2 separate regions of the Homo sapiens genome follow, and region 2 is linked to region 1. Evidence: fine-mapped expression QTL. A gene starts in region 1. The other region holds a variant in brackets. All regions are shown on one strand. Distances are between the middles of the regions.

Region 1 (5,000 bases):
AAAAAATACAAAAAAAATCAGCCAGGCGTGGTGGCGGGCACCTGTATTCCCAGCTACTTGGGAGGCTGAGGCAAGAGAATGGCGTGAACCCGGGAGGTGGAGCTTGCAGTGAGCCGAGATCGTGCCACTGCACTCCAGCCTAGGCGACAGAGCAACACTCCGTCTAAATAAAAAAAAAAAAAATTGTCATCCCTTATTGTACAGATGCGGAAACTGAGGTGGAGGCATTAAGTGACCTGCCCAAAGATACACCACTGACAGCATGATGAGGAGTAGTCAAACCTGGTACTAGGCATGGGAAGACTCTGCTTCTTTTTCGCTCTTTTAAACACCGTTAGGATGGGATGGGTGTGGTGGCTCATGCCTATAGTCCCGGCACTTTGGGAAGCTGAGGGAGGAAGACTGCTTGAGGCCAGGAGTTTGAGACCAGCCTGGGCAACACAGTGAGATGCTATCTACAAATAAAGAAATTAGCTGGGCACGGTGGCACATACCTTCAGTCCCAAGTACTTGGCAATGTACTTAATGTCACTGAACTGTACACTAAATTGCATATTAAAATGGCTAGGCCCTGCGCGGTGGTTCACGCTTGTAATCCTGGCACTTTGGGAGGCTGAGGTGGGAGGATTCTCTTGAGGCTGGAAGGTCCCGATTGCAGCGGCGCTGTGATTATGCCACCGCACTCTAGCCTGGGCAACAGAGCGAGACCCTATCTCTGAAAACAAACAAAACAAAAAAACTATAGGATGAAATATACATAAAATTTACCTTTTTGGCATTTTATTTTATTTTTTCGAAGACAGGGTCTCGCTATGTTGCCCTGACTGGTCTTGAACTCTTGGGCTCAAGTGATCCTCCTGTCTTGGCCTCCCAAAGTACTGGGAAGAGAGGTGTGAGCCACCGCGCAGGGCCTAGCCATTTTAATATGAAGTTTAGTATACAGTTCAGTGGCATCAAGTACATTCACCATGTTGTACCATCACCACCGTCATCTCCAAAACGTTCTCATCCTCCCAAATTGAAGGTCCGTCCCCGATAAACACTCCCCACTCTCCACCCCAGCCTCTGGGTACCACCTGTTTTATTTATTTATTTAATTTTCGTAGAGATGAGGGCTGGCGTGCGGGGGGTGGTGGTGCTATGTTGGCAAGGCTGGTCTCCAACTCCTAAGCTCAAGCGATCTTCCCACCTCAGCCTCCCAAAGTGCTGGGATAACAGGCGTGATCCACTGGGTTGTTTTCTAGGATGATTAAGACATCCCCCAACCAGTGGTTGTCCTCCACTCCGGCAAAAAACAAGATAGAAGCCACATGCACCCAATGCCCGTCCCGTGAGCACCCGCGCAGAGCGAACCGCTCCGGTCCCTCCGGAGTCAGCCTCGAGCTCCACGCGGCGAGGACCCGCCCCCGCCCCCACGTGACCCGCGCTGTCCCGCGCTGAAGGCGGCGGCCTCGGATGGACTGAACCACTGTGAAAGCCCGAATGGGGGGAAACAGGCAGTGACGGCCGCTAGGGAAGGACTGGGGGTAAGCGATTAAAGAAACTTCCATACATTTTTGTATCGCGCCAGGCAGTCGTCCTTCTAGTCGTGTGGGCCCTCTCTGGCTCGCCCCGAATTCCTTTTCTATTTTGAAGTAGTCTGTCCTTTTGCTCAGTCAGTAGGCGAGTCCAAGTGACAGACACGGACAGGGGGGACTTTAGTAACGTAAACTAAACGGTTTCCCTAGCGAAAGGCTCAGACGCCCTGAGCAATCGCCTGTTGAGTCTCCACTCTTCCAGGGTATTAACTGTTGAGTTAGAGGACATTTTCCTAGCATTCCGGGTACTAAAATCATTTCTTGTCCCCGCCTTCAGCTCCACAAATAGTTCAGTCCCGCCCCGCAGCGTCCGACGGGAAAGGAAAGGGGGAGGACGCCATGTTGGACGGAACCATCTGCTGCCACACATGGGGTGGTCAATGCTCCCATGAGTTTACTGATGCACAGAAACAACCTTGCTGAATGGAATTAAGCACTTTCTTGTCACAAATATATCAGTTTGATGATTTTCGGGCGCGGTCTTGTGGATGCGAGTCCTCTCAGGGTCGTTCGTGAGGCCCCAGGGCGTGGGTGCGCCCCCCGCCCCGCGGCCTTGGTGCGGCCTCCCCGTCGCACGCACATGGCTGGGCTGTAGCCGTCGCGGCGCGCGGTGCGGCCTGGGAGAGTCGGAAGCGCGGCGGCCGCGGAGCCCTGCGAGTAGGCAGCGTTGGGCCCATGCAGGACGCGGAGAACGTGGCGGTGCCCGAGGCGGCCGAGGAGCGCGCCGAGCCCGGCCAGCAGCAGCCGGCCGCCGAGCCGCCGCCAGCCGAGGGGCTGCTGCGGCCCGCGGGGCCCGGCGCTCCGGAGGCCGCGGGGACCGAGGCCTCCAGTGAGGAGGTGGGGATCGCGGAGGCCGGGCCGGAGTCCGAGGTGAGGACCGAGCCGGCGGCCGAGGCAGAGGCGGCCTCCGGCCCGTCCGAGTCGCCCTCGCCGCCGGCCGCCGAGGAGCTGCCCGGGTCGCATGCTGAGCCCCCTGTCCCGGCACAGGGCGAGGCCCCAGGAGAGCAGGCTCGGGACGAGCGCTCCGACAGCCGGGCCCAGGCGGTGTCCGAGGACGCGGGAGGAAACGAGGGCAGAGCGGCCGAGGCCGAACCCCGGGCGCTGGAGAACGGCGACGCGGACGAGCCCTCCTTCAGCGACCCCGAGGACTTCGTGGACGACGTGAGCGAGGAAGGTGAGGGCGCCCGGGGCGGGGCTGGCGAGCGGCGCGGGAGCGTGGCTGGGGTTCCCGAGGTGGGAGATATCGTCGGGCTGTGCCACCGGTTCGTGCAGAAGTTCCAGCGAGGGTGTCCGTGTGTTCCTGAGAAGCCACCGAGGGAGGGGTTCCCGAGTGCCCTGGAAGTGTTCTGAGAGCCCAGCGCCTCCCCTTTTCTTTCCTGAAAAAGGGGACAGGGTGGAGCTCACTTCGGGAGCCAGGCATTTGCATGACAACCAGAAATCTGAGAGGGTGGGAGAGGGCACATGGGGTACTCCGTTATGGCTGGGTGTGCTGTGAGTGTAGCAGCTGGGGGTACGGCAAAAACCGAAGACCCGGTGGCAGGTTTGCGGGTCTACGTGTCCCCAGAGCTGACCAGTCAGACCTCCCAAGGTCTGGATCGGAGGAACAGCTTGTGGCAGAGCCGGTGATTTTGTCCTCCTGCCCCTCAGAATTGTCCATCTCCAGAGACTTCCTTAGTGGGACAGGCACCCTGTGAAATTCCAGTTTGATTTTTCTTTATCTCTTGCGCTAAATCTATAAAGAGAGTTATTTTTCCAGGTTTTAATATTGCCGATAACAGCCAGCTTTGCCTTCATCTCAACCTTGATTGGATTTACAGGCATATTTTTGCTTCCTGTCTCAGAGATTTTTTCCTGAAGCTACTTCTGATGAGAGCTGGTCTCATTTGTTTTTCTTTTGTTTTTTAGCTCTCTTAAGCCTTTAAGTTGGGAACACATCAGCCTCTGCAGATTGGCTAAGTTGATACTAGAGTGAGAAAAATAAAAATACCCTTGCTGATGTAGCCAGCGATACACCAGGACAATTTCGGGAATAACATGGAGTTGCCAATTTATGATTTAAACGTATTTTTAAAAGGCTATCAGAGGGCCGGGCTGGGTGGCTCACGCCTGTAATCCCAGCACTTTGGGAGGCCGAGACGGGTGGATCACGAGGTCACCATCCTGGCTAACACGGTGAAACCCCGTCTCTACTAAAAATAAAAAAAAATTAGCCGGGCGTGGTGGCGGGCACCTGGATTTCCCAGCTACTCTGGAGGCTGAGGCAGGAGAATGGTGTGAACCTGGGAGGCGGAGCTTGCAGTGAGCCGAGATCCTGCCACTGCACTCCATCCTGGGCGACAGAGCAAGACTCCGTCTCAAAAAAAAAAAAAAAAGAAAAAGAAAAAAAGGTTATCAGAAATACAAGTCAGCCAGGTGTGCTGGTGCACACCTGTAGTCTCAGGTACTTGGGAGGCTGAGGCACGAGAATCACTTTAACCCAGGAGGTGGAGGTTGCAGTGAGCCTAGATCCCACCACTGCCTGGGCGACAGAGTGAGACCCTGTCTCAAAAAGTGAAAAATTAAAAAATAAAAACGCTGTCAGTTACTGTGACCATTACTATATTACACTTTTTTTTTTCATAAAAGACATTTTAGCATGAAAAGCAGGAAGGACACCACAAACTAAAGACTTTGGGAACATCTAGTCTACGCCCCTCAGTCCTGAGGAAACTTGTCCCTGAAGGTGGAGTAGGCTGCTGAGAATTCCCAGTGGGTCTATACTGCTTGGCCCACCAGACTCTCCTGCTCAGAACAGTGTTCTTTCTAACGCTTCAATTGTTATTATGGTTTAAAAATCAAAACTTTTGGTTTAATGATTATTTTGAGCCCTTGGATATTCTGCTACTTTTTTAAAAAGCATTATTTGAGCCCATCGAATTCACAGATTTCTAATACGTAGATTACTTCTGGAATTGGGAAGAGTCAGAGGATGCTAATATGACGACAGGGTTGGCCAGGCTGGGTGACGGCTGTGGGTCCTCAGCGGGCCCACGTGGCCCTGAAGGTGCAGTGTTGGCCAGAGTGACAGGTGAGGCATCTGGTCCTGAGGACTAAGGCTCAGGAAGCCGACTTTGTCATGGCCCTCCTGGTTGTGGTAACGCAGGTTTTGTGCTTTATGAGAAGAGCTGCCCTTCAGGGTCATTGTGCAAGACCGTAGGTGACTGTATCAGTTCTTTCCAGAAGGGCCAAGTCTTCCAAGGAGCAGGCCAGAGGTGGCCTGGAGTCCCTGTCTTGCTTTATTACTTTTTTGGTACAGATTAGCTTCTCAAACTGTAATCATCCTTTCAGTTTAATGTTTCAGCTGATCCAGGATTTTAACTCTAAATGTCTTTTTTGGCTCATTAACTATTCTTTCTCTTTCTATTTGCTATTTAGTGTTGAGAA
Region 2 (5,508 bases), 29 kb after region 1:
AGACACATTGGGAAACTTGTATTGAGAATGGTCAGTTCTGCCCGTTTTTTCATTTTGAGATGGAGTCTCGCACTATCACTCGGGTTGGAGTACAGTGGCGCAATCTTGGCTCACTGCAACCTCCGCCTCCCGGGTTCAAGCGATGCTCCTGCCTCAGCCTCCTGAGTAGCTAGGACGACGCATGTGCCACCACGCCCAGCTAATTTTTTGTACTTTTAGTAGAGACAGAGTTTCACCATGTTGGCCAGCCTGATCTCAAACTCCTGATGTGGTTTACCCGCCTTGGCCTTCCACAGTGCTGGAATTACAGGAGTGAGCCACCGTGCCCGGCCAGTTCTGAACTTGTTTCCTGTTGGGAAGGGAGCCCACAAATTGGGGTAATTTCAGCCCCTCCTGTTGACAGGGTGTCACTTCCCACTGGCACCTGTGACCCTGCAGTTTCATCCACCTCTTTTCAACTCCTCAAACCTGAGGCAGCCCTCAGAACTCACAGCCAAGGGCCATTTACAAACCTAAGGCAACGTTTGGAGACTGGGAGGGGCTGTAATTCACAGGGCAGAGGACCCGGGCTCCTGCCACCCTGGAGGAGTGGCCTAGAGCCTCAGGTCACACTGGGTCTCCCAGGTGTGAGGAGGGCGCCTTGGTGCGTTTGCTTTTTTGGGAGCCCTACATTTCTCTCATCTGCGATTCTACAGTTCTAGAATTGTCGCAGTCCTGCCGTTCATCCTGTGTCCCTCCAGTGCACATTTTATTAGTAATTCTTGTTTATACTCTTGCTGCTTAAATTCTAGTGTGCCGAGAAAGTTTTTCTGATTTCATCGAAAGAAGAAAGGCACACAGTTCTACCATATGACAGATTTTTAACAGATATTCTAAAAAAAATTAACTTTCCACTGTTTTAAATGTACTAGTTGTCATTGTTTCATATAATTCGTAAAGGATTTCTGAAGCCCTTGCGTTGGTTTTAACTTTGCTACGGTAGACATGGATCTCCCAGAGCCGGCCTGCTGTGGAGGGACTTCCTGGGTATCAGGGTCCCCACGGCTGGCGGGCTCAGGACATCGGGGGGGGGGGGTGTTTGGGACCCCTGCTGCAGGCATGGCCTTGGTTGTGTTTCAGGAGGCTGAGGCAGGCAAGAACGCGGGGACTTGTAAACGTGTTCCCGGCAAGTGCCGTGGTCAGACGCTGGAGCCTCATCCTCCTAGAGGACAGGGATGTGGTTGTTGGAGGGGTAGCCGAATCCACCTGGCTGGGGTTTCCTGCTGCACAGTGTTGACCCGGATGCCAAGAAAGAGATGGATGTGGCCAAAAACATGCCCTGGCCTTGCACAGCTGAGCTGCCAGGCAGTCGGCTTATGGGAAAGGCATGGTGGCTCTTGGGAGGGCTTGAGTCGCCCACTCTGGCGGGAATGGACCCCCGGGCCCTTTCAGCTCCGTGGTTGGCATCATGAAGTTGGACTTGGCCAGGCTTGAACAGCTTGGATCCGATTTTAATGTGATTTCTTTACTTTTTTTTTTTTTTTTTTTTTCTGTCAAGACAAGGTCTTGCTCTGTTGCCCAGGCTGGAGTGCAATGGCGTGATCTCGGCTCACTGCAACCTCCACCTCCCGGGTTCAAGCAATTCTGCCTCAGCCTCCCGAGTAGCTGGGATTACAGGCGTGTGCCACGCCCGGCCTGGCTTTGGCGTGATCTCTGTCAGTGCAGGAGCGGGTTTCTGTGCTTGGCACCGACCCTGGCTCTGGGCAGTGTCGTCCTGCACTCTGGTTAGCTCAGCCTGGACGGGTCAGGTGACCTTGGGGAGCAGGTTCACGGTGCGGTGCCTTTCCCCGGGCTTGCAGTGGAAAAGGAGCACAGCCTTTAGGTGTTGAATACACCTGAGAGCCAATCAAGCGCTTACTGGGAAAGGGGAGGAGACGTGGTCGCGGGCCGGGCGCGGGTGGCTCACGCCTGTAATCCCAGCACTTTGGGAGGCCAAGGCGGGCAGATCACCTGAGGTCAGGAGTTCGAGACCAGCCTGGCCAACATGGTGAAACCCCATCTCTACTAAAAATACAAAAATGAGCCACAAAATTGTGGCAGGTGCCTGTAATCCCAGCTACTCGGGAGGCTGAGGCAGGAGAATTGCTTGAACCCAGGAAGCAGAGGTTGCAGTGAGCCAAGATTGTACCACTGCACTCCGGCCTGGGTGACAAGAAAAAAAAAAAGAAACATAGTCGCCGTTGGAAACGGCAGTTGCAGTCGAAGTTGCTCAAGTTGCTGTGTGAAGTTTCAGCTGCTGCCATTTGTCTGCTTCAAGGGAAAAGCTCCAGGGCCATCCTGGTTTCTGTGTGAGGGGCCCTGAGGTGGGCAGCGCCTCTCCTGGGCTCAAGGTGGTAGAGGGACCCACCCTGCAAAGAAGAGGGGCAGCCCCTCCACCTGTGTCCTGGTGGGTGTCAGGCTGGCTCATGTGCACCGGGTGAGGCACATGGAAACCGGGGGTTGCCATAGTGAGGGTGGAGATAGAGGCTGCTGTAGCGTCTGGCGCTGTCCCTGTGTGCCAAGGTGATCGAGAGGGCCACCCTGCTCCTTGAGGCCCCAACCACATGAGTGGTGCCAGCCCGGCTCCCCAAGGCCCAGCTGATGTCACCTAGGCAGAGCAGAGCGGGGCTGAGCGCAGGCAGGTCTCATCTCTGCTGTGATAGGGAGCGCATCCCGCTGCCCATACCCTCCTGCCAGGCTGCAGGTCCCTCCCCGGCCCGGGGCAGCCCGGCGTTGAGAGATGGAGCCCAAAGACCAGCCACTAATGGTGAGCGCCCTCCCTCGTGTTCCCGCCCCCCCAGTCTGCGAGTGCCCGACGCCGCCTCCCAAGCCTGCAACCCCGGCGACCCCTCTGCTCTGTTATCAGCCCGGTCTACTCCCCAACTTTCCCTCGCTGGGAGCTAGCTGCCCCGCTCTTCCCCACTGCCTCCGCACCCCCGCCTTGAGCCTCCAGACACCCTCTCCACCCCTAATCCCCATGCTGCTGGCACCTGGGTGTGCGGGCTCTGGGCTCCCCAGCCCCCTCCCTGGGCCCAATCCAGGCCATCTGCTGGGGGACTCAGAGCCTCCGCCAACTGGACAGCGGTGAGCTGAGCTGGGGACTTGCCCCAGGGCTGTAGCTGGGTAAAAAGAGATGCCAGTCATGACTGTCC[C/T]TCAGCCACAGCTGCTGTTTCTACCAAAAAATGTGTCCCTTTTATAGAGGGGGAAACAAGCGTCCTGGGGCCACAGTTACTATCCAGCTGGGTGGGTTTGAGGCCGGGATCTGGCCCTCAGAATAGGGAGTGGGGATGGCAAGGCCCCCAGTTTCCCCTTGGGGAAGTTTCCCATGAAGGAGCTCAGCATCTCTTCTGGAGGTGGCAGGACTGGGAGGCAAGGCCTTGGGCAGGCGCTCCCTGCTGTGTGCCTCAACCTCCCCATCTCCTCAGTGAGGGAGGCCATGTCTTGTTGGGGGCACGGGCAGCCCCGTGGGAGTGAAGTCAGAGCCCACCCTGAGGGGCACGGGGCTGAGCTGCTGCCTTCACCTCTTCACAGAGACTGAGCAGATCCCAGAGCAGCCGCCCTGGTGACTGCCTGCAGGTGGCACTTCGAATCCACCCGCTCAATGACGCAGAACTGAAGGAGGGAGCCGCGGTCATCGCCCACAAAGTGGGGGACCAGGTGAGGCTGGGGCTCAGGGGGCTCCCTGCTGTCACAAGCTCACAGATGGGGCTCTGTCCTGGAGGTGTGGCTAAGACTGACACCATGCCCACCCCACTGGGCCCAGTTTCTAGTCAGGGTTCGGGGCACACAAAGGGAGAGATGAGTGCCACCAGGAGAATACAGCAGAGCCCGTGGGGGTGGGCAAAGTCAGGGCAGGGGAGCAGGCTGGAGCCCCCCAGCAGGAGCATGTGGCAGGGCCACAGAGCAGGGAGGGGGCTGGGAGGAGGGCAGAGCCTTCAGCAGGCCTGGCTCTGAAATTGTGTGGCTGGAAAGGGCCTGGGTGGCTGCAGCTCAGCAGGGAAGGGCGCCAGCATGCTGTCCAGCACGGGGATCTCTGCCACTTTGAAGCAGGCTCAGAAGCCAAGCTGTTGCCACAGGTTAGGGATGTCTATGGCCTCGGTGGTCACTCATAAGAAGAAATGCCCAGTGTGGGGTGGAACTCAGTGTCGCCAAGTGGATCAGGTTTTCCCGTTCGTCATTAGAGAGGCAGCTTCATAAGGAAGGAGACATGGCCCCTGGGAGTCATGTGCACTCAGGGGCAGGGGACCCTGGGTGTGTCAGAGGGAGCTCCCCGCTGGGCAGGGGGGCACCAGTCCTGGTCCCAGGTCAGGAGGCTCAGGGCATCGTCTGCAAGAAGATGAAATGGACGGCCGGGCGCGGTGGCTCACGCCTGTAATCCCAGCACTTTGGGAGGCCGAGGCGGGCGGATCACGAGGTCAGGAGATCGAGACCATCCTGGCTAACACGGTGAAACCCCGTCTCTACTAAAAATACAAAAAATTAGCCGGGCGAGGTGGCGGGCGCCTGTAGTCCCAGCTACTCGGGAGGCTGAGGCAGGAGAATGGCGTGAACCCCAGGGGGCGGAGCCTGCAGTGAGCCGAGATTGCGCCACTGCACTCCAGCCTGGGCGACAGCGAGACTCCGTCTCAAAAAAAAAAATAAAATAAAATAAAAAAAAAAAAGAAGATGAAATGGACCAGGCGCGGTGGCTCATGCCTGTAATCCCAGCACTTTGGGAGGCTGAGGTGGGTGGATCACGAGGTCAGGAGATCGAGACCATCCTGGCTAACACGGTGAAACCCCGTCTCTACTAAAAATAAAAAAGATTGGGTGGGCATGGTGGCAGGTGCCTGTAGTCTCAGCTACTCAGGAGGCTGAGGCAGGAGAATGGCATGAACCCGGGAGATGGAGCTTGCAGTGAGCCGAGATTGCGCCGCTGCACTCCAGCCTGGGTGACAGAGCGAGACTCCGTCTCAAAAAAAAAAAAAAAAAAAAGAACAACAAAAAAAAAGAAGATGAAATGGACAGAAGATCAGGTGCACAGACATCCCCAGGGGGAGTGGACTGCAGAGGGGGCAGGTGAATCAGTGCTGAGTTCACGGAAAAGCAAACGAAAAAACCAGACAGGCGTTTAATTCGAGGGGAGACAGGCTCTGCAGGAAAGGACATGGCAGAGGGGGTCGAGACCCAAGGAATCAGCTGAGAGAGTGGGGACAAGTAGGGTGGGAGAGGACGGTGGCTTCATAGGATCTTTGCAGAGGTCCTTATCCTTTGCATGATGCACCTGCATCATGGATAAAAAGAATGGAAGTTGGCCAGGTGCAGTGACTCACACCTGTAATCCGAGCACTTTGGGAGGCTGAGGCTGGTGAGTCACTGGGGTTAGGAGTTCGAGACCAGCCTGACCAACATGGAGAAACCTCGTCTCTACTAAAAATACAAAATTAGCCAGGTGTGGTGGTGCACGCCTGTAGTCCCAGCTACTTGGGAGGCTCAGGCAGGAGAATCACT

Alleles and levels. Positions count from the first base shown, and alleles are read on the strand shown. Sizes are in standard deviations (SD) of each study's normalised expression.
For the expression in spleen of the gene that starts at base 2,158 in region 1, T is the high allele of the variant in region 2 and C is the other (small effect, 0.36 SD a copy in GTEx).

The links. PIP is the estimated chance that this variant, and not a neighbour inherited with it, causes the effect.
Region 2: its variant is fine-mapped to the expression of EIF3B in spleen (GTEx, PIP 0.91).

Annotation. Positions count from the first base shown.
Region 1 is chr7:2,352,670-2,357,669 of GRCh38, forward strand. EIF3B (eukaryotic translation initiation factor 3 subunit B) reads left to right here and starts at 2,158. Exons shown (of 19, transcript NM_001037283.2): 1 at 2,158-2,751. The coding sequence starts at 2,253. It also overlaps a transcript of SNX8 not described here. RefSeq lists enhancers at 949-1,504, 1,175-1,244 and silencers at 2,045-2,184, 2,365-2,454, 2,505-2,614.
Region 2 is chr7:2,380,998-2,386,505 of GRCh38, forward strand. It overlaps the pseudogene KIF19BP. Among named protein-coding and RNA genes, the nearest start is that of CHST12, 20 kb to the right of the region's middle. The variant C/T (reference allele first, on the strand shown) is at 3,171.